3 separate regions of the Homo sapiens genome follow, and all the other regions are linked to region 2. The links come from fine-mapping of genetic effects on gene expression. A gene starts in region 2. Each other region holds a variant in brackets. All regions are shown on one strand. Distances are between the middles of the regions. Region 1 has its middle 46 kb from the start of LINC01796. Region 2 holds the start of TMEM182 (transmembrane protein 182). Region 3 has its middle 130 kb from the start of LINC01935.

The links. PIP is the estimated chance that this variant, and not a neighbour inherited with it, causes the effect. A credible set is the group of variants that fine-mapping cannot tell apart.
Region 1: its variant is the best candidate, but not a certain one, in a credible set for the expression of TMEM182 in left ventricle (GTEx, PIP 0.54).
Region 3: its variant is the best candidate, but not a certain one, in a credible set for the expression of TMEM182 in atrial appendage (GTEx, PIP 0.64).

What each region holds. Positions count from the first base shown.
Region 1 is chr2:102,845,468-102,853,658 of GRCh38, reverse strand. No RefSeq gene overlaps it. Among named protein-coding and RNA genes, the nearest start is that of LINC01796, 46 kb to the left of the region's middle. The variant C/TC (reference allele first, on the strand shown) is at 4,294.
Region 2 is chr2:102,757,625-102,765,815 of GRCh38, reverse strand. It overlaps TMEM182 (transmembrane protein 182), which reads right to left and starts at 3,785. Exons shown (of 5, transcript NM_144632.5): 1 at 3,467-3,785; 2 at 3,130-3,229; 3 at 1,389-1,487. The coding sequence starts at 3,598.
Region 3 is chr2:103,107,473-103,115,663 of GRCh38, reverse strand. No RefSeq gene overlaps it. Among named protein-coding and RNA genes, the nearest start is that of LINC01935, 130 kb to the right of the region's middle. The variant T/C (reference allele first, on the strand shown) is at 3,952.

The DNA.
Region 1 (8,191 bases), 88 kb before region 2:
TCAGCTTCCCAAGTAGCTGGGATTACAGGCACTCACCACCATGCCAAGCTAATTTTTGTATTTTTAGTAGAGACAAGGTTTCACCATGTTGACCAGGCTGGTCTCAAACTCCTGACCTCAGGTGATCCACCCACCTCGGCCTACCAAAGTGTGGGATTACAGGCACCAGCCACTGTGCCCGGCCAATCTGATGGTTTTGAAACAGGGAGTTGCCCTGCACAAGCCCTCTTTCTTTCCCTGCTGCTCTCCATGTGAGACATGACTTGCTCTTCCTTGCCTTCCACCATGATTGTGAGGCTTCCCCAGCCACATGGAACTGTAAGTCCATTAAACCTTTTTAGTAAATTGCCCAGTCTCGGGTATGTCTTTATTGGCAGTGTGAAAACGAACTAATACACTTGCACTCTCCAAAGAGTGGTCTGCAGACAACCCGGTCTGCTAATTGTTATCAGTTCATGAAGAGAAAGGGGCAGAAAAACAGTTGAGAGTCAGTATTTGCAAATCTTCACAGCAACTTGACGTTGCCATGACATCTGTGTATGTGAGCAGTGGACTCCCTTGCATGAACAAGATTTAGGCTGATCTGGGTGTTGCTGAGCCAATGTACTGAGTCACATCACATGTGGCACTGCATGCTGTCAGGCACAAGAGGACACAGTGGGGCAAGGATCTATGAACCAGTGGCAATTTTAAAACCATATTTTTCACAGCAAATAATTTGAGAAGCACTGATCGTTTACCAGGGTCAGTTTATATGCTACTCTGGGTGGGGGCTCTTGTTTTCCTTTATGGAAAAAGCTACCCTCCCAGAGGCTGGTGCTTTGCAGAGTCTTGCTGCCAAGCCTGTAGACCTAGGATCCCATGCACATGCCAACTGCCCTCTGGCAAGATTATATCTATGGAGCTTGGCTTCTCCAGTGACTAACTGGACAGGAAGGAGACACAGCTTGGAAGTGGAGGGAACATCTGAGAGAGGTGGTAGGTAAATTCTTTTTTCTTTCTCTCTCCAGGTCAGCTCCACAGCACCATAACACACCCTCAGATCTGTTTGCCCTCCTTCTGGACTTCATGTTCCTTTTCCCTCACACAAGCTTCCCAGGGCTTGCATACTCCAATAAAGCATTCACATATAAGCTTTTGCCTCAGGTTCTATTTCTAGAGAACCTGAGCCAAGACATGTACTACGTAAAATGAACCTATGAATGACTATTCTAATGCTTTTGACCGGTGCTTCTCAAAGTGTGACCACCAGACCAGTAGTATCAGCATCATTCACAAATTGTTAAAAATGCAATTCTTGGGTCCCACCCAGAACCACTGAATCAGAAACTCTTGGTGTGAGCCCCATAAATCTGTGTTTTAACAAGTTCCAGATGATTCTGTTTTAAGTTTGAGAACTACTGCTTTACACTGACAATGAGAACCGGAAAATGTTCCTTCTTCTTAAAGTGTATCAATCTGCTAAATCTTAGCTCAAGACTGGACCGTTTTGTAGGCAAAATCCATTATGCTAACTTGACAGTATTATAATAGCATATATCTAGTAGCAAAATGTAACATTTTTATCTTAGTGTGAGATCAACCGAAAAAAGAATGTTGCATAGCACATTTGTTATAACTTCTATCTTTTTAAACCAAACTTTCTTTTATATATTTTTTCATAACTTAGACCCATATAGAGGAAACTTAACCCTCTAAATCATTATCCCTGCCTTTTTAGAACGGAAGCATCATTCTGTTGAGTACTTCATTTATTTTCCTCTCATTGCCTCCTTCCTGGTTGATCTACCCTCCAAAATTGCTATCTAAAGTAGTAACTACTTTGTCTCAAATAAAGCATATTAAAAGTAATGTTTAGGCTTCTGTGACATACCTGGAGATCTATAGAGCTCCCCATGGCTGTGGACATCGATGTTTGGAACCAGTACTCTGATCTACAACACAGACTGCAAATTAAAATCACCTGGGGAATTTTAAAAGCCTACTCATACATTTGGCCCAACCCAAAGAAACTGATATAGTTGGTCAGCATGTGAAACCCAGGTACTTAACATCTATTTCAGAAGACTCATACGAGTATTCTAATGTGTAGCCAGGGTTGCAAAACACTTTGAGTCCAACTGTAGCTCATAGAGTGCTTGATTTTTGCTCCTTGACCTCCTAAGCCCTGGGACAAACACACTGACTATTTCAGGTGTTTCTGCCTTTCCAAGACAACTTAAAAGGAAAGCCACCACTACAACCACCTCACAACAGTCATGAAGACTTCTAGTAAAATCACATTCCGCAAGTTGAAGCCAAAAGACAAACCAGAGTCCTTGTAAAATTACTCTCAAACTGAACCTTCAAAGGATATAGACATCTGGGTTTTGTTAAAAAATAGTTTGCAACCTTCCTATGGAATTTTCATTGTCTTAGTCCCTGCTCAAAGTTGCAGTCAGAGAAAACTTCGTCTCCAATCATCCCAGCCCAGGGACTGCAGCCGGCTGCTCTCCAAGGGCAGAAGGCAGGATGGGAAAGGTGTGCACATTGTCACAGAAGGTGAGCTCTCAGAGTCCATGCAGCTCCTCGGTGCAGTCTCGGGGCCAGGCCGGCTCTGGAGGAGCACTGTCAAGACACAGGTACTCCTGAGCCAACACCCAAGATTCCGCACACCAGCTTTTAGCCTTATCCTGTAGAGTGGCTTGTACTGAAATGTTTGTGTTTGATTCTCACTTTCTATTCCCTTAGTGAAGATCCCATTATCTCTAACAGCTGTGTGTCCAGAAAAAACATGAATTTTGTGTAACAGAAAAGAATCCCATACTTGTTTCTCCAAATAGCCTTAGGAAAAACAATTTAATCTCACTTTCTTTATTTATACTATAAAGACTTTGTGCGGAAAGGGGATAGGTACTTTAAGGTGGGAAACTTTTGAAAGAATGAATTAATCTCTATAAAACAGAAGGAAGTTTATAATTATTACTATTTTTTAACAGCCTGGACCAAAAAAATGGAACAAATGTGCCACTAAAATAGTATTTGAAATTTACCATCTCCAGATAAATTCATAAAGGGGAAGAAAACCAAAAAGGTGACACACACTGCTTGTGTAAGCTTGGAAATTGATTTCCAAAGCATCAGAGCTCACTACAAAAGAACTTCACAGTTTAATTAGGATGGCTGAAATCCAGAGTCTATATTTAGGATAAGCTGGAAATTACAGTGTAGAAATGAGAATCATCTAGCAAGAGCCGAAATGGGGAGGGAGGGTGTCTATGGAAAAATCACCACAGCATTTTTCAGCTAACCATAAAATGTCTTAACTTTGTGTTTCTCTGGACACACACTAAATAATCTCTAATGATTTTACCTTTTCAGCTGAGGAATGTGTGTTTTAAATTTGCCTTCATACATGTTACCCACATTCTCAATACCTGTATGATCTGCTTAAGTGCAGATGAATTTGGCATTTAACTCACAACATATCAAGAGAATCTCATTAAAATTCTGAATGTATATAAACATATTTTATACCATTAATATTTTGGCTTCTTATTTTTAAGTGGTTGGCAAAGTACTCATGGCACTATATCATTAATTTCTTAAATATTCCTGTTTTCTTCTCATCATTGATATATCATCAAATAAATTAGTTCATACCCAAAATGTGACAGAAAGAACCATATGATTGATTTTTTTTTTTGAATTTTTACTTCTGGAAATGTTTAAGATGATTTTGTACAAAATATATTGGCTTACAATCTAATAATTTATTAGAGGAATACACGATTATTCATGACCACAATTATGGCTTCTGGATGTTGAATGAGGGTGTTTATCTTCTTCCACTTTTTCTTCTTTATAGTGACCTGGCTCTGAATTTAAATATGCTTGTCAGTAATTTCCCTAAAAGCCGTTTAAATGGTCTAAATAATATACTCAAAATTGTTAAGAAAATAAATCGTTTTAGCAAACTGACCTCATCAGCAAAGATGCTCTAATGCACAATGACTATACAGGCAGAAAGACACAGAGAGAAATAGAATCGCAAGAGTAGAGTTTGAAATTCATTTAAATTAAAGTTACTTGCTTTGGCTGAAGGTTTAATTTTAAATTACAAGGAAGGAAATACTCCAGGTAAAATAGCTCTTACTTAATTTTAACTAACAAATTTCAGATATCCAGCTTAGAGCTTCAGTGTGCACTAGTCACCTACTAGTGAATTAATTTATCCTCATTAATTTTGCAAAAGTACACACGTGGCCCTACTCCATCATTCCAAGGCCAGGCCTCTCATTCAGTGTGATGACT[C/TC]AAATTTTAAAATGGCAAGAAATTAGCCGAATTCCAGCTCTGAAGACCCAATCTAATTAAGTTGAGTTTCCTTGCTTTTATGTTAATGCTAATTGAACAACGACTATATGACAGGTACAGCAATTCGCTCCTTTAGTCCTTATTACTTAGTGATTGTTGTTGGCATTCTACAAATGAATAAACTGAGGTTAAGTGTGATTTAGTAATTTGGTGCCACAGCCTTAATGTAGACTACACTTCTAAGCAAACATTGTCCCCGTGCTGTGCCGGTCACTGTTTTGATCTCCAAGGAGGCAGTGTCGGAAAGATGTAGATGACTGTTCCAAGACTTTCCTGACATTTGGATGAAAAAATGAGCACTGAAAGTGTCTCAGAGATTGAAGGTTAAAGTAACAGAATTGGTGGTTATCTTTTGTGAGGAAGCAGGAAAGGGGGTCGTGGCTGAAATAACAACTCGGGCTGCCATCAATTTCTATCGAATTGGCTGCTGTATGGAACATTCTGCAAATCTTACTGCTTATTTTAACTCAAATGGAAAACCCTCAGTTTTTCATCCTCAAAAAACTGTCTTATACTTTTAAACCAATGAATCCAAAGCAGAGCCAGTGATTTCTGCAGCCAGGCAGGCAAAGCCGTCAGTCACGCCCACTCCAGGTCCCAGTGGACCCAGGGAGCGGCTCCCCGGCAGGCAGAGCGGCCCCCGGGCTGGAAGCTAGTCCTTCCGCATGCGCATGCGCAGGCGCTGGTGTGGCTGGCAGGCACCGGGAAAATAGAGAACTCAGGGGAGGGGCAAGGTCCCTGGCATTGAGGAGACTCACCCAAGGAAAAGTTGTGCCTAACACTGCCACCGGGTGGTCTTTCCTGGGAGAGATTTATTAAAATAAAATAAAAAAAATCTCCTAGGAAGTTTCCCTGCTGATGATAAGAATCTAATGAAGTCTCAGATGTATCATAAGTTTGCACTCTAAATGACTCTGGAGGATCCCACCAGCCAAATCCAGAATGTGCCAATCTTCAGGACATAACCTGCTGATTTGAACAAACTGATGTTAGGAAAGAAAAAAGAATGAAACGGAGGTAGTAAGTAGAAAGACAGGCAGGAGAGGGTCACTATTTATTTCAAGACTACCTAATAGATCAATGAAATGCACTCAATGTATGGATCTTTTATGGGTCTTGATTCAAACAAACCACGATTAAAAGTTACCTTCGAGCCAATGTTGGACAATTGGTTAAGACCTGGGTAATTAGATGACATTAAGAAATTATTGTTAATTTTGCCAATAATGGTATCGAGATTAATTTTTACAATGGGGGAAGGGTTTTAGCTATGAGATAGAGAGTATCCATTGGTGAAATGATGTAGTATCAGGGATTTGCTTTAAAGTATCCCAGAAAACAGTGGGGCTGGAATAGATGAAAGGAGACTGGAAGAATGTTGATAACCTGTTGAATGTGGAGGATGAGCACATTGGGGGGGTTCTTTTCTTGTTCTTTAGGCCAAAATACAGTATTTGAAAATATCTACAATAAAGTTTCTTTGCTAAGTTGCAGGGGAAATGATTGATGACTCTAAGTTAAGTAAAATACTATATAAAGGTTGGTGCAAAAGTAATTGCAGTTTTTGTCATTACTTTCAATAGCAAAACCTGCAATTACTTTTGCACTAACCTAATATATAAAAATATTGCTTTTTTAAATCTACCTTGTGGCAGTTTCATGAGCATATCACCTTTCTCTTCACACACAGAGACACACATATTTACCATATTAGTTGTTACAAATGTCATGTGTATTGCTGTAAATAACTAGGCCTCAAATCCTACCAAAAACTTGGCTTTCGAAGTAGTAACAACTTTATTAACCAAAGCATTCACAATTCCACTTTATAAGCCTAGCAATATTAGAAATCCATTTTGTCCTCTCTGATTAAAGGCTTTTCTCAGTGAAACACTTTATACTCTCTAATTTATATATTTCCCCTTCATTCATTTCTATGACATGGAAAGATAGCCAGTATATGAAATGTCTACTTCTCTTTTTTTAAAGCTCATTCCTTGGACACATGTAAATATATGTCTCTAGTACTTGAAGGAAAACATCATTATTGTTGATAATGATACAACATAGTATCTGCATTCTGAAAGTCAAGTTGATATTCTGTATCTAAATTCCAAAAGAGTAGCACTCACACAATAAGATATTGTTTATATGCTCAGGAAATGAAGAAAATCAGAGCATTCTCATAAAATTGGGCACCAATCTGCTTTGATTTTCCGGCTTGAATTTCAAGAGTGACAACTCTGCCCATAGTGTAACCATTCATTTACAAAAAGTTCGAGATATTTTCTCCAAAGATTTGTATTAGTTTTTGATGTTCTGTTTTTTGTTTGTTTGTTTGTTTGTTTTGCTTGGGAGTGGGTGGGGTGGAACGTAAATAAACATACCAAATATGTTCGGGGCAGTGGTAACCCTCCTTGTTAATCAAGTGTTTTGTTTCTGAATCGAGACGATCACTTCAGGGGATTAAAAAGTGCTGAAAAATCATTGGATACTTTTCAATTTTCCCGTAATTACCATTTCTCTTACCCAAAAGAGGAGAGCTGGTTTTGCTTCACAGATTTCAGGGAAGTCTTCATCTCTGATCATATACTCATGCAGAGAGACTTCCACTGGCCTCTCATTAAATTACTAACTTGGTTACCAGAATAACTTATTTCATCTCTCAGTTTCCCTCATTTAAAAATGGGCGTGAATCATACCAAGGTTGTGAGGATCCAGCTGACTCTATTCCCTCAAAGTGCCCAGGGAAAAGTAAGCCTGTGAGAGCAGCAGCTAAGCCCAGCCAACAGGCAGGGCCCACTCAGCTCTCACCCCACTGCCCGCCTTCACACTCACACCCCAGATGGGACCAGTCTCTGCCCAGGGGGAAGAAACGCAGGCAAGATTATGACCTCCTCCCCGTCCATGCCTTTCTAATTCAGGGCTTCAGCATCTTCTAGTCCCTCTGCCTAGAAACCCCCCCATCAATGCAACTGGCCAGCTCCTGCTTTTTCCTCAAGCCTCTGTTAGCTGCTCGGTAACCCCACTTCTAAGAAGGTGAAGTGCCCCAAAAATCTCCTTACAATTCCTGACTTTTCAATATGTATTGTTGAACAAGAGTAGTTGTTGAATAACTAAACACCACTCTCACTGGATGGTGAGTTCCAGCAGGGCCGGGGTGCCTGTCATTTCCACTGCTATGCCCCATGTGCTTGGCACATAGGAGGTCCTGAATAAATATATGTGACAGGAGCTTGCACTCTATAGAGAACATACACAGCTTTACAGAAAGCGACAGGAGGGACAGCCAACATGCCTCACAGGAAGGTACTGGGAGGGGGTCAGTTGTCATAGGAGGCTTCCAGGAGGAAGTGTCTTTCTCCAAGTGAGCAGGCAATTGTAGATACACGGAGAGATGCAAAAAGGTAAGGGCAATCATCACTGCAATTTATTGATTGTTTACAACGTGCTCAGACTATTCTAAACAGTGAAGTGAACATGTATCATTTTTTCTAACCCTTACAGTAGTCCTGAAGAATTAGGAACTATAATAATACCCACTGTACAGGTGAAAAAACTGGGATACGGGAAAATTAAGCAGATATCCAATGTCTGGTGCTAGTGGGCAATGGAGTTATTTATTATTTATTATTCATTTATTTTGAGATGGAGTCTTGCTCTGTCACCCAGGCTGGAGTGCAGTGGCGTGATCCCGGCTCACTGCAACCTCTGCCTCCCAGGTTCAAATGATTCTCCTGCCTCAGCCTCCCGAGTAGCTGCGATTACAGGCATGTGCTACCATGCCCGGCTAATTTTTTGTATTTTTAGTAGAGATGGGGTTTCACCAGGTTGGCCA
Region 2 (8,191 bases):
GTTTTCAAGGAAAATGGTCCCAGTCCTTCGAACCCAAGGAATCCTGGTGGACAAGCACAGCTGTGGGTCAGCTCACCTCTTTCCCTATCCAGACCTCATACCCTCTTTATAAGTGTCCTATTAATGATGTAATACAAGCAAATGTTACATTCTTTGACAAAACTAAAAATTATAATGTATGGAATTACATATTTAACAGGAAGATGAAAAATAGTTCCATGTAAAGATGTGTTGAGTTCTGTGATGGTTATTGTTATATATCCACTAGGTTGGATTATGGTGCCAAGTTGTTGGGTCAAATACCAGCTTAATATTGCTGTGAAGGTATTTTTAGATGCAATTAGCTTTTATAATCCCTTGACTTTGAGTAGAGCAGATTACCCCCTACCCCATACTATGAGCGGGCCTCATCCAATCAGTTGAAGATTTAAAGAGAAAAAACAGGTGTCCTGAGGAAAAAGAAAGTCAGCTTCCAGATTGCAGAAGAAAAATTCTACTGGAGTGTCCAGCCTTCAGACTGGAGATTGCAACATCAGCTCTGACCTGAATCTCCAGCCTGCCAATTGCCCTGTAGATTTCAGACTCACCAGGCCTTACAATCACTCTCTCTCACTCTCTATGTGTGTATGTGTATGTGCACATGCATATGTATATACATGTATGTGTGTATATAATATATATTTATGTGTTCTATTGTTTCTCTTTTTTCTGGAGAACCCTGACTAATATTAATTTATTGAGAACATTAAATATAATAGCTACTATTTTTGAAAAACACTTTTTTGTTCTATATATGACATTGATAGTCTGTATCAACCCTTAGCAAGTTATTACAAATTTCATGTTCTTAATGTGATTTTAAGTTAATGATATCTGTCTGTCTGTCTCCTATGGGATATTACACACACAGAGTTCAGTCATTTTGTATAAATATAGTAGCATAATTACATATTTATATCATATATATTTATTGTATACATATTATATATTTATCTGTGATATTCTCATGTGTAATGATGACATAAAGTTTTAGAAGTATGATGTATATTACAATATTCTCAACTGTAGGACTCGTTTTAGGTCTGTTAAAACCTTAAGAAGCGGTTCTTCTTAATAAATATTACTATCTTCATATGGGAAAACACATTTAAAAATACTTTTATAGGCAGCTAGTAAATTACAATGACTTTACTTTTAGATCAAAGTTATGTTCTTTAAAATTATAAATGGCACATTAAAAATAACATTTTTTAATCTAACAGATATCAAAAATATTGAAATTACAGGTCTTAAATTATTTTTTTAATTGCTCACAACAATTTTGATCTGGGCATCCTTCAGAAAGATAAGACCCTTTTAGAAGTAGGCTGAGGACAGAGGGTACTTACTAACTGCAGAGTCATAGGAGGTCGAGTTGTGCTCGCCTCTCATGAAGGGGTACGGAGACAGGTAAGCATGTGTGCAGTTCTTGGACGGTGGCTGATTGGCTAGGAAGAACAGCAAAACAATGGCACTTGTTATTGAAAAGCTCAGTCATGACTCATCCTTAATGGAACAGAAATACAGAGCACAAGGGTTACACAAGCAAAACAAAACTACTGGTTCCATCAGCAAATTCAGCGAATTGTTGTGAGGAGGAAGGCCTTCTAGGAAACTCATATCAAGATGCACATGAGACGAAGGTGGATTCATCCAGAACATCTAGCTACATGACATAATTCAATGGAATAAATGCAAATGCCCTTTATATCACCTTACGATTTAAGGTACCACATTTCATCTTTTTTCACATACTCTCCAGTACCCAACAGTGTCTAGCACACAGTAGGGAATAAAAAATAATTGTTTTAAAAATCTAATAAACTTAAGTTTAACCTTGATTAGTTCAAATTAATAAAAAAATTCTTCTATATCCATTTTATTTTAGGGAAGAATGCAAATGATAAGTTATACAATAATTCAAATAAATTTTTAATATTTGAAAACATCACAAGAAGGCACTTTTATGTTGTCTGAGAACTTAAAATTTTTATATGTACACTTTAAGGTGGACTGAAATATTGAAATATTCTTTCTTTCTCCAAGTCTTTGGCAAAATCTTCCTCTTGCACAGTCTGACTTACTTCCCTTTACTAAAGTCTAAACCATTTCCACTGGCAAGTTGTATGCTTATTCTCCTGCCCCCAAATCCACTGTAAGATAGTCTATCAGGTACTTGCCTCAAAACGCTGCTTCATCACTACTTTGTTCCTTATATATGCCAACTTATCACCAGCTTGCTTAAGTCTTCAGGGACCTCCTATTTTTATTAAATATTCCATAATCCTGACTATTATGTAAATACCATACTTTGATTTTTGATAAGAAGACTAATAATTTCAATTCTCAATAAGCTTTAGGCTAATAAACAGCCCTTTCATTGTTGAATACAATGAAATAAGCGCTAGCTATTTTCAATAAATTGATTTTCAAAGATTAATTCAATATAAAGAATAGAGTTGAACAAATGCATTATAGTTTTTAAAAGTTATGCTACCTTAAAAAAGAACTTTAAAGTTTCAATGAGAACACAAACATCAAAAGCAAGGCACTTCTTGATAGTGCCAACAAACTTGGTTAAAGCTCAAATAATATAAGCTTTCATCTGCCATGGCTGGTAATTAAGTTCCATGATTTTTTTAAAAAAAATATACTGTTAACTTTGAAGTTATGAATATAAAATAATACATCTCTATTTATGGATTTTTACATTTGAGATTTCAAGGGCTGATAGCAAAAAAATCTTATTTATTTGCAACATAGTATTCACACACTTGAAAAAATGCTATAGACAATACCTGTCCTGTTTGTTAGAGTTAGTGTATTCTAAACAGGAGCAGTGAAACAATGGATAATTCAGTTTTGCCATAAATATTCAGACTCCTGTTTTATGCTAAAAGATAAAATAATTATTCCTATAGCCATGTCTACTTACTGAAAAGGAATCTCTACATGATGAACCTTTTAAAGACATCTAATTGAGATTTTGTAACTCACAATCCAGTCCGCTAGAAGTGACATATACTATGTAAGAAACTGTTCATTTTTATTTTACAGACAAGAGGGAAAATAAAGCTAAATTGTACTTACTGTACCAGAACTTCCAAATATTGGAGTCATTCTCTTCCACAATCCCATTAAACCAACACCTCCAGAAGAACCCTTCATGGTGAAAAGTGACGTTCTCTATCTGCACAGAACAAAATGAAGTAACTTGCCATCAATACAAGAAATATAATCAAAATCATTACAGCCAGTAAATTTTTAAGGACATGTATTTTATCCCAAATAATGAAGCTCAGTAGCTTTCTACATATCTCTTCCATGAAGAAATAGACACTCCACTACTATTCTCTGATTTCAAGAGCATACATAAGGGTATCTTCATAACTACCATGTGCATCACTATTTTGAAGAAGAGACTCACATTCTTTTCACCTGAACATCTCCCCACTTCAGTTGCAAGAAGCCAATAATCCGATCCAAAAGCCACCAAAAAGAGTAACACCCCCAAAGCACCAAAGAGAGCTCCAAAGAAGATAGCGATATTTAGTCTCATTTTCAATTCACTGGTTTCCTTTTAAATAAAATATGAAATTTTAAAATGGTAAGACACCTAGTTTCTCAGAAACAACAGCAAAAAAAAAAAAAAAAGAATAATATTTTTGAGTTGGCAGAATCTTCTTGAGAAGGCTGTCCTAGCTCATGTTTTGGTGGCTTCTCGCTCACGCCCCACCGGCAGATTCATATTCCCTTTGCTCGCCCCTGGAGGAACTCCAGCCCAGCAGCTGAGAATTGCTGGCTATTTTAAGATAGTGATTGAGGAGCTGTCTTTCTCCCATGGGGATCAAAAAATAGCTGACCTTCTCTTGACTATAGAGAGAAGTATCAGGAACTGGCTCAGATTATCATTATTGCTGTTGGGTAATCCACAGAAGTAGAAAGAAGATGGAATGGTTATGAAGTCATTGAAAGCATTGGCCCCAAATCTTGTGTCTGAACAAGCTCCTCTTAGTCTAGAATGCCCATTACAATCCCAAAGACACTTAAGACTCTCTTTGAAGATATATAAATCACAGATATAAAGAACCACAAAGACCGATCTTGAACACAATTGAAGTTGTAATTAACTTAATTCCTTTTGGACTTTTTTTGTGGTAGAAAATACGTTTTTGGTCAAATAGTCTAACATAACACAGTACAGTTCACGTTTATAATCTAAACATTCAGAGGTATACTTAAAAGGTCAAGAATGTTCATGGTAACATAATTGTTGAAAGTATAAAGAAGAGCTTTTATGCAGCATACACTAGTGACATAAAAACAACACTTTCTGCAGCAGCCTCATGAGTCTTATACAAGTTATTCCAAATAATCATCCCCAAAGTGGACTGATGAAAAAAGTCTCAAAAATGTATTATTTCCTGAATTAAGATGAAATAACCTGATCGACTTCTTTTTCCTTCATTTTAAAATATCTCACTTCCTCAAAATATGAATCATACTTAATACTCACACAGACCACCTAATAGCAATGAATCTACACTTTCTTCAAGGCTTAACTCTTTACAGCTTATTTGTTTGTTTTGTTTTTCTGTCTGATATGCCAGAGGAGAGTATTTTTCTAAGTATTTGTGTGCATTTAAAATCTTGCACCGTTCCTTTGGTTATTGTTTTTATATTCTCAACAATAATCTGGAATACTTAATCTTCCAAGGGGGCATCTCAACTCTACCAGCTTTCTTCACGCCTTCTTTTTTGTGGCATGGGATAGATCCTTACAATGGATTCTGTGAGAACAAAAAGATTCTCAATAAAGATGAAGGGCCCTGTTAGGATGTAGCTATATGCAATCAGAGGTATTCAAAAGCTATGAATAAGGCCAGGCGCGGTGGCTCACACCTGTAATCCCAGCACTTTGGGAGGCCGAGGCGGGTGGAGACCAGGAGCCTAGCCAACATGGTGAAACCCCATGTCTACTAAAAATACAAAAAATTAGCTGGGCATGGTGGCGGGCCCCTGTAATCCCAGCTACTCAGGAGGCTGAGACAGAAGAAACGCTTGAACCCGGGAGGTTGAGGTTGCAGTGAGCCGAGATCGTGCCATTGCACTCCAGCCTGGGCAACAAGAGCAAAACTCTCAAAAAAAACAAAAAACAAACAAACAAAAAAAAACATGAATAGAATTCTAAGCCATATAGAATGTTACACAATCATTAAGGATTAGATTTAAGTTAAGGGGTCATCTGAGCTAATCCCTCATCTAATGCTTAAATATTTTTTATAAGACTTCCCACACCATCAAGCTATGACATTTCCAGCCTGTGGCATTTAAGGACATCAGTAACAGCCATAATAGCTCTGCCTGATTTTCTGCCAAAAGCTGCATCCTAGGAGTTTCCAGATATTTATTCTATTCTGTCCTTTGAGATTGTGAAGCACAAGTTTCAATCCTCTGTCTGTGACAGAACCTTCTGATATTTTAAAGATAGCCATCACCCACGCCTCATCAATCACACTCCTTCCCTACCCCTATATAGAGGTCTAAGCTATATTTTTCTAAGCCAAACACTCTCTTCCTTTAAACGCCTTGAGATTGGTATAACTCCAGACCTCCTCCTCTCCGTTCTGGTTTTTTCCTACAATTTTCAAGTGCTTGATTGAAGTGAGACATAGTAAAATATTCTGGGTATATTCTAGCCGTTCTTACCTGGATGCTGGCTAAGAGTAATAATGGCCTCACAACAATGTTCATGCCCTAATCCTAATCTATGAATATGTTATTTTACATGGCAATATCCTGGATTACACAAGTGGTCCCAATCTTATTACAGGAAACCTTACATGAAAACCCGGGAACCTGTCCTAGCGGAGTGGCCAGAGAGAGAAAGGTGACCACAGCAAAAGGGTCAGACAGTTGCTGGTTTCAAGACAGAGGAAGGGGACCACAAGCCAAGGAATATAGAGTGCATCTAGAAGTAGGAAGAGGAAAGAAAACAGATTCTCCCCTTGAGCCTTCAGGAAGGAATGGAGCCCTGTCCACAAATTTGAGCTCAGTGAGATCCCTGTGGAATTTCTGGCCTCTGGAACTGTGGGATAGCAAATCTGTATTGTTTTAAGCCATTACTTTGGGGACAATTTGTTATAGTAGCAATATAAACTTAATACACATGCTATTCTATAATTAATGCAATATTAGAGCAAACTAAGTTTTCTGCAGGGGAGGGGAATACATCTTCAGAAGTGCTTATTGTGGACTTTTGAGGGTCCAGGCATTTTATCAGATATTGAGGTTACAATATATAGGCCCTGACTTTGAGGAGTTCATAAGCTAGTGGGGGTAAAAAAAAGATTTGTTAGAACAAAATATATGGAGGTTTAATAATGAGCTCTGGTCATCCTGTACACATTTTACTGCTCCCCCACACGCCCCCTCCCTGGATTAGTGTGGTTGTGGTTGCAGTGGTTGTACAGTTGTGGTTGTAGGTGACAGTGTTGTTGTTTGGAAAGAAGGAGCAATCTGTTGGATAGGAAGATTTTATTTATCTTATTTATATTTCAATGGTTTATGGTTCAAATTCCATGCAATAATACTAAATCTTTAACACATGCATATATAAAAGTAGATTTTTTTTAATTAGGGGAAAAGAATATAAGACTTTGTTGTTACTATTTATCACAATTTTGGTCTTTGTCAGAGAAAAGGATCATCTTTCTGGACTAGGTTCATCAATGAATAACATTTTCTCACCATTTTTGGTTTATGAAAAATATATAAACATCACCATAAAAATGTAGCTAGAGTGTTTATAGGACAGGGAAGAGCCCGGATAAATGCCATGAAAGACCACTCCCTAGGGGGGCATTGCCTCAGGAACTAGGTATGTGTATTCAATACATTAAATCAGCCATTAATTTTATTAACTTCAGAATTTCCAACCTTTCATATGTGTTCATCTATTGAGAAAAATAGAATACTTTTGCTATCATAAAACTGAGCCATTTTAGCTTGATAATTTTCAATGCTTAGCATAGGACTTGGCACACAACAGGCACTGAAATAAAATAGAAATCAATTTGTGTTAGGAGTCTTGGCTGAGATGCAAATACATGACCTCCTGAGCAATCCAACTGGCAATCTACCCCCAAAAGAAACAGTGCTGATCTGGCCCAGCTTGGTACTTGTTAAGCTCTGGAGAGCTGGATTTTAGCAGGGTGCATGTTTCCTGTACAGATGTTTTCAAACCATCTTTTAACAAATCCTTATTAGACTTTTGCTAATGAAGACATGAAATGGAGCTTACCATGGAGGAGGTAAAAGGTGTCTTTTTTCTTCAGAAAATTGGACATTTGCCTGTCACTTGAAACTCTTCTAGTTTTCCATGATTCCTAAGGAATTTTAACAGCCATTCAGTGTTGCTTCCCCAAGTAATCTTAGAAGCCTAAGAAAATGTCCATGCACTAGGAAGGCTGTTAAGCAGCTGTGGTGTTCTTCACAAATTTACAAACTGAGACATAGGTTCTCTCTTCCCTTTCTCTCTCTTTTTTAATGAAAGGCCAGGAAAAGGGGCCTTTCAATAGAAAGGGCTGGTTAAGCCTCAACCTCAACTCCTAATAATCCTATAATAAAACGGCTCCATTGCTAGTCTATGTATCTATTCCTTATGGGAATATTGACTCTATCTTTACATTGATAAGGTTATCACACTGAGTGATATGGTTTGGATTTGTGTCCCCACCCAAATCTCATGTCAGATTGGAAGAGGGACCTGGTGGGAGGTGATTGGATTATGGGGATGGATTTCCCCCTTGCTGCTCTCATGATAGTGAGTGAGTTCTCATGAGATCTGATAGTTTTAAAGTGTGTAGCACTTCCCACTTCACTCTCTTTTTCCTGCCACATTGTGAAGAAGATGCTTGCTTCCTCTTTGCCTTCCGCCAAGATTCTAAGTTTCCTGAGGCTTCCCAGTCATGTTTCCTGTTAAGCCTGCAGTACTGTGAGTCAACTAAACCTTTTTTCTTCATAAATTACCCAGTCTCTGGTAGTTCAGTTCTTTATAGCAGCGTGAGAACAGAATAAAACACTGAGTCATCAGGGCCACAAGAATAAGCATCATGTCTCAGGATCAATACTGTAGAAGAAGTTGATTGTC
Region 3 (8,191 bases), 350 kb before region 2:
CCTTTGTTATTGAATCTTTGTCAAAAAAAGTTAATAATATTATTTTAGCTTACTATGAGAATCAAAGTAGATAATGTATTTTTAGTGGGGTTTGTGTGCAAAATATTCTAAAAATGCCATAGGTTAAAGCATTCATGAGTATTTTTTATAATTGAATGTATCTAATTATTTTTCGTGCTATCTGTATTTTCAGGTTGTTCTATTTCTTGTTAGAATACTCCTTAAACTTACTAAAGCTACATAAAACAATTGTTCTAAAATTGCTTCTTCAGTTTCTTTTTTGAATCATAGATCATTGGTCAGAAATCTTCAGGCAATGTCTATAGTGACTATTTCATGAAATATACAAAATAACCCTCTAGATCTATTTTATTGGAAATATATTTATATTTTCTATAAATCTAAGTACAATGTCAATATAAAATATGATTATCTACTAAATAAACCAATCAGAACCTAAAATAAAAGTAAATACTGTCCTAACAATAAACTTTTTGGCAGATCATACACTTTCTGTAATAAGGCTTTTGCTCAGAACACATTGAAAGCCCTATTTTTTTTTTTTTGGATGTGGTTTTATATATTATCTGTAGCCTTGTCATGCTATAGTTACAGTGTATTTTTGACTCAGAAGAGAATCAGTTAGCCTGGTTATTACATTTATTTACCAAGATTAAATGACATTTCACTGTTTAAAATGAATTTAATTCACACTCAAATATACATTTGTTATCAATGAAAATGTTTTAAAGAATGTACAACTAACTCTAAGAGGAATCTCCAAAGAAAATTTCCAAAAAGATTTCTTTGAACAGTGGCACACATTTGAAAGGCCTTGAGAGCCCAGATAAACAGATGAGTTGGCACAATGGAAAGTTTAACAGTAACTTTAAGTAATTCTTCAGTATTTATTTAGAGATGGTATTGGCACTTCATGGGAAAGTTCTCCTCTTTTCCTCATCTCAGCACTGTTTGTCTATTTAGCAAAAGAAAGTTTCATGGTAAACAGAACCAGCCCTCCTTAGATGACAGCTGGTGACCATTCATTGGACAAGATCATGGATTCTGTAACATGTCAACATCCTCCATTCAATCACAAGAGATTTATTCTTCCCAACTGAAACAAACATATTAGGGCTTCTGGTAAACACAATTTTCTCCATCCTGTTATATTTCCTGGAAAGTTTCAGTATCTCTTATGTTTTGTTCTCAGGTTGACATGTTGTTTGTGTAGCTGTTTAGATATATGAATTCTGATGTGCTACATACAATTGATCATACTACTTTCTTTTTTATGGTCACAGTTTACACCTCCAAAAAGAGTTAACTTATGTTAACTCAGAGGTAGTTAAGGAGATATTCAAAGTGGTGAATATGCCCTTTCTTCCTTTGGAAGTAGACGCCATTCTCTGCTCTTCCATGTTACCCATAGAGCAGCCTCGGATGGAAATGAGATGAACTAGAAACTGACAAGGTTGACCTAAGGAACAATGGCTTTGATTTAGTTAAGTAGCTAAGTAGATCCCAAAGACGTATCAGCTAAATGATCCACTTCCTTTATGACTATGCATCTTTACTAAAATATATTTTTAAATGATAGTTTATATTACTACAGAAAAATGATGTGTCCCCTAAAATGTAACTTTTATGACAGCATGCACGTTGAGAGTCAGTAATGATTTGTTGAATGAAAGCAAATGTGAGCCCAAAGGAATCTGGGTATAATTGATCTGATCATGAGATTATGCTTTAAAGCGGATGAGTAAGAAGTAATAATCTAACACATAATGTGCTTAGTCAGATGAATCTGTTTTTCAAAGTAAAGATAAAAGGAAGAAATTTGAGCATGGTTTATGGGAAAAATATTTAACAAGCCATTAAACTATCAATTATCCTAAGAAATAGTTGAAACAAGTATGACTATGATTAAGTTATTTTTGTTACTAATATCAGAATATCATATTTGAAAAAGAATATGTTATAAAAGCTTAAAATCTTCCCATTTCAAAACTTTACTCATTACATCCAATCAAAAATCACAGCCAAAAAAAATTGTACTGTGTCCTTCAAATTAATCACCGAAGTTTCTGATTATTTCATAAACTCCTATCTTGTCAATAACAAGTTTCTTGACATTAAATCATGTGGGTGCTTGTAAAATTGTTTTACAAATATTAAGAAGATTAAATAAAAAATGAATCAAGAAACATAATTTGCTAGAATGTTCTTCATGTACACAATCAAGTAGGAATATTTTGTAGCCTTTATACGGATGTTGTCTATTAGAAATAAATTATATAATCATGCTGCTAGATAGATAGGCAATAATGAATTAGATTGCTAAGATATGTAATTGGGCTCTTGGAATGCATGTTTGATTGCCCTGAAAAAGTGCACAAAATAATTTCCCTTAATTGCTTTTATTTCATTTCTTGTCAAACCTAAGTTAGGGTGTTGCTTTAAGGTAAGAAACTACTTACTTTTTGTAGGAAAATAATCTCACCAATTTGGAGGTTGTACCAATCTTGCCTTGCAAGTTGTACCTATGAGAGTTTCAGTCCAAACCTCAAGACAAGTATGCATAACTCAGGTTTCAAACATTACTTATTAGGACCAGTCAGTGGCTTCTTCATTTCTTACCCACTAGAGGCAAAACTAGGGTTTGAAGGTGTATCCATCTTTAAAGAATATAAGCACTCTAAACCTATCGTCTGGCAAAGGGCATTTGGAAATGCTAAAAGGTGAAAACAGTTGTCCCCAATCTCCTGACTTTGGAAAACATGTTGAAATTCGAAGTTACATAATAAGAATCCATCACCCTTTAATTTGGCAGCAAAGATTCCTTTGCTGTGCGAGTTAGCAGATAGCTGAGAAATACTAAAACTTCATTAACTAAATAAGCACAGATAAGTGTTATTTGATTCTGTAATGTTGGAAGTGAAATAACAATGCTTGTTATAGATCTGAAGTTAATTTGTTATGATCAAAACCAAGGATTTGCTAAAAAGGTTACTTTTAGCTACAAGTTCTAAACCTTTAATATCCAATACATACAAGTATATTAGAGTAAACTAAGAAACTTTATAAAAAGAATAAGGGATAATGATTGGGGAAATGTACCTTTTAAATCAGTAGTTTTAATCAATTATCAATATTCTGTTATAGGTAAAATATATTCTCTTTCCTGAAGAGATGACAGAATTTTTACAATTAGGCTACAGTGCAATCATTTTTGTGCTCAGTATGGACTTTAAACACATCACTCATCCATTACCTTTCTATCCCATTGTTCTTCTAAGACATTGACCATATGATGCTTTTCAAATTGTCATCATCTACAATGTTGAGATCTGCCAAACAGCAAATCAACCTTTATAATTAAAGTTGACAAGCTGACAAGAAAAATGAGTGTATACTTGCATATATATATAAATTTTTATGTCACATTGCCGTCTGTGCACTTGTTTGCTTTTTGTCAATAGCCGAAGGCTCGTTTCTCTGCACCAGAAGCGTGTTATATTCCAAGGTCCTCAGACAGCTCCCCTTCGCCCTAGTGAGTCTGTTGATTAATTTTGGATACTCTTCTTAATTAACACCCCAAAGGATGTCTAGATTATCTAGCCTATAGTCCATGAAAAACAAGTGAATCTGAAGAATAATAACCCAGGGAGACAAGCATGCACTCTTCAAATGATGTTATAAGAACATCGAGTCTCTCTCAAGTCAAGATTGTGTCAGGCAATGCCTAGGGAAGATGCAGGCCTTTAATCGGGGCAAAAATAGAAATTCGTGTTAGTCTAATTTAATTTTCTTTTTGACAAGGAGAGGAGTGATAGATGCCCCTTGACAGATGAAACATGGCGCCTCAATGTAGCCATGGTTGCCATTGGCCTTGATTAGTAACTGGTCCCATTTTGACCTCCAGGCAGAAGAGTTGATGAATGAGAGAAA[T/C]GAGTGAAGTAATTAGAACAGTAAGATCAAGTATGAAACTAGCCATTTGTATCCAAATCTGTGAAACCTAATAATGGAACCAAGAAACACTAAGCTCATGGCAGCTTCCATAAATATGTCTAAAGACTGGAATCCTTTATATGTGAGGGTCACAATTAATCAACTCTGACAATACTAGTTTCACAAACAAATTTGAGTTCATGTTTTTAAATTACCTTTTCTAAGGAGCAATTTTATAAAAATTTTTTGTTAAACCAACTGTTGCATCTATCAAAGATGCTAGGACCCACAATCTTTTAATTTCTGGGCCATCAAGAACAAGTTAAAAAAAATCCATCATGACTTTTCTAGCAACAAAGCTAGAAAATCAAGCTGACCTAGATACCTAGTAAAAATCATCTCAAATAAATAGTATGATAACTAAAATTTTCACTGACTACCATTCTAGACCACCTGACTTTGCATAGTGTAGTTAGGGAGCGTTTTTGAAGCTGAGTCATCTAATTGCTACTGTTGTGCTGGTTGAACTCAGCACTGAGAAGCTCCACATTTAGAAAAGCATATGCCATCCTATCTGTTCCTTTTCAAAAGAGAAAAAATATCTTCATGTTGATACTATATATTCCATTTTTACTCGTACTAACAAAATGCTGAAGTTGTTTTCTCCTCATCATTTGGATGTTTAAAACCTCTAACCTGCAAAAGTCTGTTAAGTAGTCTATTTTTAACACTTTGCCTTGATGAAATATGGATGCATTTTATTGCATTTCTTAATCTCAAATAAGAATGAACAGCCAGAACTTAAAGTCACTTTTAAGCATGTTACCATTTCAAGGCAGCAATTTTTTTTTTCAAAAAAGAAGAAAAGTAATTGTAAATATAGTCATTCTTCAATTTGAAATATGAATGCCTACTTTTATTCAATCAGTCAGTTAGGCAGCAAGTAATTACTGAGTGCTTCCTGAATCAAATACTGTAAAAAGTACTATGCCTGCGAAATGAATATAGCAGCTCACAAAATGGCTGCAAACTTCCCCTGTTCCTGTATGTACACCTTGCAAGTTGATGTTGCCACTTTTCTCATAAAATGGTGCAGTCAGTGTATTTCTCCACCCATTAAATCTAGGCTCAGCTATGTTACTTGCTTTGGCCAATAGACCATTAGAAAGCATGAAGGAAACTGAGCCTTGAAAAGCATTTCAACATTAGTGCTTATGGAGGGAAAGTCTGGAACACCAAAGTTTGGGTGATGACAGAGGAAAGAATCCAGCGAAACAGACTGATAAAATGAGCTGTCAATCATCCTGTTTTATTTATAAAGATATTACACTAATATGAAAAATATCTGGTATAAATATGTGGATGCTATGACATCACTATACAGAGATGCAATTAAATTATTAATAAGCAATTATTGATAAACATACTAGAATACTAATCCAAATTTTGAACCTCCTTTTAGGTTTTCACCTATTAAGTGCGTACTTATACTCCCATATTACTACCAAAAGTTATTTTGAGACTACATTTGGTAATATTGCTGTATTCATTGAATAATCCACGCAGGGAAATGTATCACATTATTGAAGCTACTGGTTTCAACTGAAATGGTATATCCAAATTTATCTTTTTCAGGGCGTGGTGGCTTATGCCTGTAATCCCAGCATTTTTGGAGGCTGAGGCAGGAGGATCATCTGAGGTCAGGAGTTTGATACCACCGTGGCCAACATGGTGAATCCCTGTTTCTACTAAAAATACAAAAAATTAGCTGGGTGTGGTGGTGCATGCCTGTAGTTGCCTGATTGAGTATCCCAACACCTAACACACACATGTGCACATGCACACACACACCCATGGCAAGTGAGAGAGAGAGAACCATTTAACAATGACTGAAGATTAATTGGTCTCAGGAATTTAAAATAACTTCTGTACAGCCATTAGCTGGCTACTGAAATAACTGAGCAGAGACATCAGTGGCCACAAATGACAAATAACACAGACTTTAAAAAATTAGTTCAGAAAACTTAATAAGCAGAAAACTACAACAGGCCGAGCGTGGTGGCTCACACCTATAATCCCAGCACTTTGGGGAGGCTGAGGTGGTCAGATGAAAAGGTCAGGAGATCGAGAACATCTTGGCCAACATGGTGAAACCCCGTCTCTACTGAAAATAGAAAAATTAGCAGGACGTGGTGGCAGGTGCCTGTAGTCCCAGCTACTCTGGAGGCTGAGGCAGGAGAAACACTTGAACCCGGGAGGCAGAGGTTGCAGTGAACTGAGGTTGCACCACTGCACTCCAGCCTGGGCAACAAGAGCGAAACTCTGTCTAAATAAATAAATAATTTAAAAACTACAACAAAACAAACCCTGGAGAGGGGAAAAATCTGATTTTTAGAGTTACTACATTATATTACTTAAAATGTGTTTAAAAAAACAAAAAAAAAATGAAAAGAAATAAAGTTTGGCACATAAAACTGTGGCACATATGCAAGAAAAAAATCAGTCAATAGAAACTCTTTTGGGAAGTCCAGATGTTGGAGTTCTGGTACAAATATTTTAAATCCGTTATTTAGAATATGTTCAAACAACTAAAAGAAACCATTTCTAAAGAACTAAAGAAAATTATGAAAGCAATGTCTTATCATGTTAAAATATCAATGAAAATATATAAATTATTTATTCAAAAGAACCAAATGGAAATTCTGGAAATGAAAAAGAAAATAAATAAATCATGAGAAGAGCTCATAGCAGATTTGAGCAGCCCAAAGGAAAAAAATAAGTGAACTTGAAAGAGTTCGAATGAGATTATCTAGTCTGAGAAACAGAAATATAAAAGAATAGAAAAATGAACAGAGCCTCAGAGACATGTATGACAAGTTTAATTGATCATTATATACAAGAACTCCTCTGTAAGATTATGAATGGATTTCTCATCAGAAATCATGAATGCAAGAAGGCAGTGGGAAGACATATTCAAAGGCTGAAAGAAAAAGAGCATTAACCAAGAACATTGCAGCCAGCACAACTGTCCTTCAATTATAAAAGATAAATTAAGACATTTCTAAATAAACAAAAAATTGAGATAATTTGTCAGTTAGCAAATATCTCTATGTTATATGATTCCATGTATAAAAATGCCCAGTAGAGGAAAATTCATATATACAGAAATTCAATTGTTAGTTGTTTTGATGAGTGGAAGGGCTGCTAAGAAGTGGAAATGGGGAGTGGCTTCTAATGAGTATGGATATTTTTGCAGAGAGTGAGTGTGATAAATATAGTAAAAATTACTAAATCATACACTTTAAAAGTGAATTTATAGCATATGAATTACATCCAGATAAGAGAATAAATAATATAAATAAAAAAATAACAGAAATTAGGAAAGCCTTCAATGGATGCTCATTGATAGACATAAAGCAGCCAAAGAAATAATCAGTGAACTTGAAAGAAATAAACTGAAACTTCTCAAACTGAAATACTAAAGGGAAAAAAAGAGTGAGAAACATTTTTAAAAACTAAAGACAGATCAACAATATAAAATGATGTAGCATATACTTTTTTGGCATAGCAAAAGGAGAAGAAAAGAGAATAGATAGAAGAAATAGTTGAAATAGTAGTGACTAAAACTTTCCAGAATTAATGGCAAACTCCAAATCAGTTTCCAAAAGCTTAAAAACATCAAGCAAGATAAAACAGAAAAAAATGCACACACACAAACAAAAAATACCTTGCAGTATATAAGATCAATATACATAAGCCAATAAATTTTCCTAAATATAGCAATAAATAATTAGAATTTGAAATGGTAAAAATTACCATTTAAAGTAGCACCTCAAAACTGAAGTGCTTAGGTAAAAATCTTATCTAACAAAATATGCAAAGAATCTGTATGTAGAAAATTATAAAACACTTCTGAAAAAAATAAGGAACTAAATAAATGGAAGAGATATTTCATGTTCATGGATTCAATTCTTTCTAAATTATCTACAATGGAATCTCGACAAAAATCGTAGCTTTTTTTTAAATTTGACAACCTGAATTTAATATGTGTATGGAAAGGCAAAGGTACCAGAATAACCAAAAAAGCCTAAAGGAAAAGCAAAAATTATAGAACTCATATAACCCAATTTCAAGACTTACTGTAAACTACAGTTATGGAGTAGGCATGGTATTGGCCAAAGAAGAGATACATAGGTAAATTGAACAGAGCCCAGAAATAGACCAACACAGATACAGCCAA